Linked DNA regions of Homo sapiens. The protein of the gene in region 2 purifies or fractionates together with the protein of the main gene of each other region. This does not show direct contact. Each region holds a gene or a part of one and is shown on either strand. Other genes may lie near its edges.

Region 1 (3,653 bases), on a different chromosome or scaffold from region 2:
GGTTGTTGTTTTACCTTCTCGCCAACCAGCCTGATTTTAATTTGTTATTTAATGAACAAGCTCTTATATAACACTTAGCACATGCCAGGCACTGGAGCTTAACAAATGCCAACGCCTTTGGTTTGATTTATTTTACTCCAGGCATCTTTTTTTTTTCTTAGTTTATGTAGATTTGCGTGACTGTTGTAATTGTAAGCTTTTTCCAGTTTTGTCCAGATGCTTGTAGTCTTTTGAAAGTTTAATTACCCAATAAAAATTTAGCCTTGTCTCCCTCTTTATTGTCTGAATATTTTGGAGCATACCAAAAGCAGCTAACAGCAGGGGCTCTGGAGCCACACTGCTCAGATTCAAATCCCAGCTCTCCACTCACCAGCTGTGTGACCTTAAGCAAGTTCCTTTAGCTCTGTGCCTCAGTTTCCTCATCTGTATAATGGGGATAATAACGATGCCTACCCCACAGGATTGTTGGGAGAATTGAGTCAATACTTGTAAAATGCTCAGCACAGGGCCTGGCATGGAGGAAGCACTGTATAAAAGTTAGGTGTGGTTCTTTTCCCTTTGTCCCTTCAAACTGAGAAACATGTGAGAAGGTGTATGACTTCCACCATTTGCCAAGCATATCACCCTTGTTCCCAGGGACTTCGAGGGTCACAGTGGCTTTTATCTTCAGTGTCTCCCATGGGATCCTTGAAGCCAATATAAAGGGGGAAAAACTCCAAGAAGCTAATAGATGATAGTGCATGGCCTTGGGGTTCAAGAGACCTGAGTTTACGTTTGGCCACCGGTCTGCCAACTCTGACCTTGGGCAAACCCCTTCATCTTCCTATGTCTTCATCTTCACACCTGTGAAATGGGGTAACATAAAATAACATTTGTAAAGCACCTAGGACAGTGCCTGACCATAATAAGCACAAAACAACTTACTTCTTATTGTCATTAAGTTACATGTCAAATTCTTTTTTTTTTTTTTTTTTTTTTTTTGAGACGGAGTCTCGCTCTATCACCCAGGCTGGAGTGCAGTGGTGCGATCTCGGCTCACTGCAAGCTCCGCCTCCCGGGTTCACGCCATTCTCCTGCCTCAGCCTCCTGAGTAGCTGAGACTACATTTGCCCGCCACCACGCCCGGCTAATTTTTTGTATTTTTAGTAGAGACGAGGTTTCACTGTGTTAGCCAGGATGGTCTCGATCTCCTGACCTCGTGATCCGCCCACCTCGGCTTGCCAAAGTGCTGGGATTACAGGCATGAGCCACCACGCCCGGCCCTGTATGTCAAATTCTTAAAGGTAACAGTATTCTTTAATGATTAAATGGAATTGCCTCACAGCGCCACACGAGGGCACTGGTGGGTGCCTTCAAAGCTGTGCTCCTGCCCTTTGCCAGGGAGCCTAGCGAATTGTGCTTCCTTTCCTGGCTCAAGTTTACCAACATTGTTTTGTCATTTGGTTGTGTTGATAGGGAAACCAGGGTCAGAAGGACCCTAGGAGTTGTCTGCTTCTACCCTAGCGTTATAAGGGTGATAAGGGCATTGTTCTGTGGGATGACATCTACCTGCCACTTGCTGAAGGCCCACATGTGCCAGGCTGTGTTGACAGCTTCACCTAGACCATCTTGGGATTTTGCAAAGTTACCTAATCCTAAAAATAACCTGTAGCATTTAAAATGCAGATTCCATGTCCCTTCCGCTAGAACTGTAGTTTGTTGATCTGGAGTAAGCACCAAGATTTCAGTCCAAGAAGAACCTCAGAGGATTCCCAGGCTCAGACAACTTCACAATACTGAATCCTCATAACAGTGTTACGCAGGGCAGTGTTACTCTTAGGCCCATCTTACAGATGAGGGAACTGAGATTCAGAGAGTTACCTGTGCGCAGTCACACAATCTGTGAGGCTTTGAGGCAGTCTGTTTCCAAACCCTGCCTTCCCCTCTTCAGTATCTCCTGTAAGTGACTGCCATCTTCCGAGAAGCCCACCCAGTCTTAGGTGGTCTGTCTGTTAGAAAGTTCCTCCTTGCCCAGCACTTTGGGAGGCTGAGGTGGGCAGATCTCTCGAGCCCAGGAGTTCAAGTTCAAGACCAGCCTGGGCAACATGGTGAAACCCCGTCTCTACCAAATTTTATATATATATATATTTATATTTATATATTTATGTGTGTGTGTGTATATGTGTATATATATATGTGTGTGTGTATATATATATATAAAATTATCCAGGCACAGTTGCCTGTGCCTGTGGTCCCAGCTGCTTAGGAGGCTGAGCTGGGAGGATTGCTTGAGCCCGGGAGGCAGAGGTTACAGTGAGCCATGATTGCACCACTGCACTCCAGTCGGGGCAACAGAGCAAGACCCTGTCTCTAAAATAAATAAATAAATAAATAAATAAATAAATAAATAAATAAATAAATATTCTTTCTTGAACTGAGACCTGCCATCCTATCCATCCCTGGTTCCTGGGGCCATAGGTCTGCTTTCCAGCCTCAAACAGCCCCTCAGAGATAGGGTGATTTTTCTCATTCACCATTTTTCTAAGCTGAACTTTCCTGGTGTCTTCCAATGTGTTGCTCAAGATGCCAGCTCAGATTGTCCCCCACCCCTAGTCCTCCTCAGATGGGGCTACCACAGCCATCTAGAGAGGTGGTTCCATCTTCAGTCTGTGGGGTCTCCTATCACACTTCTGAGTAGAAGAGGCTGGCAGAAGACCCATTGTGGAACGACGAGTTTTACCATCCTCAGGTTCAAGAGCTTGAGAAGCAATTGGGCCAGGCCCGGAGCCAGTCTGCGGGAACAGCCAGTGATGAGTTGTCTGTCTATCCAGACCCAAGGAAGCTGTCGGCACAGGAGAAAAACCTGCTGAGGATCCGCAGCCTGGAAAGGGAAAAACAGGAAGGCTTGGAGGTAACGCGTGCCTGAGGAGGTCAGCTGGGCATGTGGGAACGAGAGATCATGATGGTGCCTGCAAGGGCTCTGAGGCACATGTGGTCAGAAGTCTGAGCCACCCCTTCTAGGCAGGAGACACCTGGGGACCTGGGTCACCTCTGCATGTTCCTCATGTCCTGTCAAACCAACTTGAGCTGCCTGACTGGGACCTCACTGTGAGCCCATTTAATGAACTTTTCGTGGCCCCATCCTGGCTGTTTTGGAGGTGCTATACCTGAAATTCTCATTGTAAAAGGGAGAGGGGGAGGGTCATGGCCCCAGAAGTATGATAGGGTTAGATGGGGCTTAAAGGGGGAAAGTTCCAGGCTGATGAAAGAGGTAGGCAGGCTGGACTCAACACCAGGGGCCGCATCTCACTGGCTGCGTTGGGAGTGTCAGAACTCTAACTCTACCAGGTTTAAGCAACAAAGGGAAGTCATTGGCCCATGTAAACGAACAATCCAGAGGTGGCCTAGCTTCAGGTGCAGATCGGGGCCTTGCTCTCAGCACCTTCTCCTGGGTTGGCTTCACTCTCTTCCACAAGGACCCTGGGTAGTCCCAGCTTCTCTCCTCCAATGCAGCCTCTACAGACAAAGGGTTTCTCTTTCCCAATAGTTCCAACAAAGTCCCAGAATTGAGTGTCTTTGGTCTAGCCTGGGTTATGTGACCATCCTTGAGCCCATCACTGTAGCCAAGAGTACAGGGTGTTTTGATTGGTCAAGCTTCAGACACCTGCCCCAAG
Region 2 (3,652 bases):
GGGTTCTCTCCTTTGTCCTGGGTAAATCAGAATGATGCTATCTTAAGCAAAGACCAACTTACTATCAAGAGGCTTTCTGGGTATGGAAACAACTATTTTGTCCCAAATGCAATTTGCCTAAAAACGGATGAAGTTTTAGTGTCATCCCCTTCGTACTAGCTTTGTTATCTCCAACACTAGATGATTTCAAAGGAGTAATTTAAAAAAACTTGTGGGCTGGGTGTGGTGGCTCACACCTGTTATCCCAGCACTCTGGGAGGCCGAGGCGGGTGGATCACCTGAGGTCAGGAGTTCAAGACCAGCCTGGCCAACATGGTGAAACCCTGACTCTACTAAAATAAAATAAAATAAAATAAATACAAAAATTAGCCGAGCATGGTGGTGAGCGCCTGTAATTACAGCTACTTGGGAGGCTGAGGCAGGAGAATCACTTCAACCCGGGAGGCGGAGGCTGCAGTGGACCGAGATCACGCCACTGCACTCCAGCCTGGGTGACGAGAGTGAAACTGTCTCAAAAACCCCCCAAAAAACCTTGTACACTTGCACAAAACTGCAGAGGCCATGGGACAAGAACGTAAACTGAGCTGCGTGAGTCATTAACGAAGCATAAATATAGTATTGAGAAGAAGTTACAGAAAACTCAAAGAAAATCTTTTGAGTGAAATATTTTATTGAAAATAGTTAATTTAAAATATATACATCATTTTTCAAAAGCCATGTGACTGATAAAAATATCAAACTTTCCATACAAGCATCATCTCAGCTTCATCCCCTCGGCAAAGTGTCTCCCGAATCTTTCCAGATGGACATTTCGTTTGAGTCTCTAGCGCCCTCTGGTGAAACACCATGAAATTGCCCAAAAACGTAATTCAGGCTCTGCTCAGGACGGAAGGTGAAATAGCAGAATGAGCGCCTATTTCAATGTGACAGGTTGTGATGTGCTGCCTTCTCCCCGAGCTCAGGAGAAAGGCAGCCTCTGTGAGTGCTTCTCTCTCTTTAGGGAAAGTATTCTTCCCATGGACACTCAGCCAAGCTTATTGCAAAATACCTTCTTCCTAAGTTTTCATCATCACTGCCTTCTGAAAAAACAAAAACCGGTCAATACAGACAGGATAAATAATGAAAGCCTCCAAGTCATTCAGGACCAGGCCCCTACTCCTCGCAAGTGTTAAAAGGACAGCAAAAATGATAAAGCAAGCTGAGTATGCAAGAAAAGCTTTCCTAGTGGTCCCCGATTCTTCAAGCTGTCTTTACAATAATGAATACCACCACTCTAGTCAACTCAGGTTTACATTTTCTGGCAGCAGATGACCTTGTCCTCAGGTTTCAAGAAGCACACCTCTTCTAAATGGGGGCCATTTCCAAAAGTAGACATTAACAGAGTCTAAGTTCATTCTCCAGACCAAACACTTTCGACTTAAGATTCTTCAGTTCTCCTTGTATCTTATGTGCCCGTCTATTGCTGTCACGGACCTCACACAGAAGGGCAAGATCCTGGTTTGCCCGGGCATTAACTGTTGCCTAGGGGTTTGAAAAAAAAAAAAAAAAAGAAATGATGATGGCATATGCCAGGGGAGCGATATCAGTCAAAAAGACACAGCTATGCTAGCTCCTTTTTGTGAGATTTTGAGTACATAGGATAAATTCCATCCTTTGTTCAGTGGCTAACTAAAGAAGGAAAATGTAGAATTAAGGCAGAAATCTCATGAAAATCCTTCCCATGCAATAAAGGAGGCTTGAGGTAGAGATCAATGCACCATGAAAGAGGAGTAAGAGAGGCCAGGATAAGCGACACTACTGGTAAGTTTGTCACAGAATGAAAGCGCAACACTACTGGTAAGTTTGTCACAGAATGAAAGCAGGCGTCTCCTCTTTTCTGCAACTAACCTTGTCTGGAACACAGGCTAACTGGCTAAATCTCATTAAGAAGACTCTTGAGGCGACTTGTATTCTAAAGAACTGTGTCTGCTGGAAAAAAGTACTCTATCACTCAATTACTCACCCTCCCCAACTGTAAGACAGACACGATTCTTTAATCTACTTCTTGAATTAGGAGGGATGACAATCTGTTTAGCTTACATCGAAGTATGAATGATGCAGTCGTTCAATGATTTCAGGGTCTTTTTATTTTCCCTCTAGCATGTTCTTGAACTAATTTTCAGGGAGGCTTGAAGATGGTGATCTGTTAGTGTTTACCAGCAGGGAAACAGCACATCCTTCTTTTCAGGGGCCCTCGTGACCATGTTCCCTCACTTACACCTCTTCTCTCCCTCGTGGCAATTCAGGACCAGCAATTACCTTATACAACATTTGCTCCAAGTCTTTCAGTTTCTGTCGGAGAACTTTAATATCTGTCTTAAAGCCTTCTACTTCCAGGATACGTCGACGCTCCAATGCCTCATAGCGTTTTGTCATTATCTGTAAACGCTTCCCCATCTTGTTAGTGCGATCCTAAATATGGGGAATGGGAAGGCATTTACGAAGGTGAGGGAAGCGTCTTCCCCAGCCATCTGCACTTCCTATTCCATTACAAGTGGCAGATAATTTCGTACCTTGAAGATCTCTCTCCTCATTCCCTCTTCCTCACGAATTCGGGCAAGTTCTTCTTCTAAGGAAATGCACTGCTCTTGGTACATATTGGACAGCTTTTTCTCTTGTACTAACTTATCTTTTAGGGACTACAAGTCAAAGGGACAAAAAACATTAACACTCAGTTCTACAATTCAGGTAATTCAAGTAGCTTTTAGGCAAAGAAAGAAAGAAAAGAAGGGATTTCCAGAGGTACAAAATGAGTTAAGGAACCAGATGACAAGGAACTTTGAGGAACATCTGAAAATCTACTTCTAGACCAGTCTCTTAAGCCCTTTTTCTAAAGTGTACACAGTAAAAATTAAAACAAATATTTTTGGCTCTGGGAAGACTCAGATAACGGAGCTCAGAAGCTGTCCCAAGGAAGACATTACAATATATGTTTTGGGCTACATTTCTAAAGTTCTTCTTTAAAAAGGAAGAAATATTAACAACAACGCTTATTATACATGCCCTATTGAGCAGTTAAAATGATCTTTTAAAAACCCAAATCAGATCATGTTACTTATTTCACACAACCCTTCAAATACATAACACTATTGAGAGCTAAGTTCACACTCCATACGATGATGCACAAGGCCCTCCACAACTGGCTGCTGCCAATGCTGGCTTCTTAAAGAGCATACCACTTCCTCCTTATTTATTCCTCTACAACCATGATGACAGCCTTCCATTTCCTTGAACATACTCCAGGGCCTATAAACTTGCTCTTCCCTCTGCCAGGAATGTTCTTCCTCAAGGTCTGTATGGCAAGCTTAGTCCCATTTTTCAGGTCTCAGCAGAAACACTAGATATAAGAGAGTGTCCCTGTGCATTCCTTCTATTAATACAATGGACTTCCAGCAACTACATATAATTTTCATGTAATTCTTTTATTCCCTTAATACCGCATTTTATAATCTATAATTTTTTCTTTTTTTTTTTCTGAGACGGAGTCCTTGCTCTGTCACTGGGCTGGAGTGCAGTGGCGCGATCTCGGCTCACTGCAACCTCTGCCTCCCAGGTTCAAGCAATTCTCCTGCCTCAGCCTCTCAAGTAGCTGGGATTACAGGTGTCCGCCACC

The links. Proteins that work in one complex are often made in the same cells at the same time.
Region 1: the proteins of CCDC77 (region 2) and CCDC13 purify together in Homo sapiens (co-immunoprecipitation; one study listed by IntAct). This does not show direct contact.

The regions. Positions count from the first base shown.
Region 1 is NC_000003.12:42,742,133-42,745,785, reverse strand, and holds part of CCDC13 (coiled-coil domain-containing protein 13), read left to right. Parts: intron 1-627; exon of another isoform or gene 628-843; intron 844-2,719; exon of another isoform or gene 2,720-2,728; coding exon 2,729-2,890; intron 2,891-3,653. UniProt on the Homo sapiens protein: Required for primary cilia formation and promotes the localization of the ciliopathy protein BBS4 to both centriolar satellites and cilia.
Region 2 is NC_000012.12:439,643-443,294, reverse strand, and holds the end of CCDC77 (coiled-coil domain-containing protein 77), read right to left. Parts: intron 2,679-3,652; coding exon 2,553-2,678; intron 2,452-2,552; coding exon 2,299-2,451; intron 1,522-2,298; coding exon 1,375-1,521; 3' UTR 653-1,374; downstream 1-652.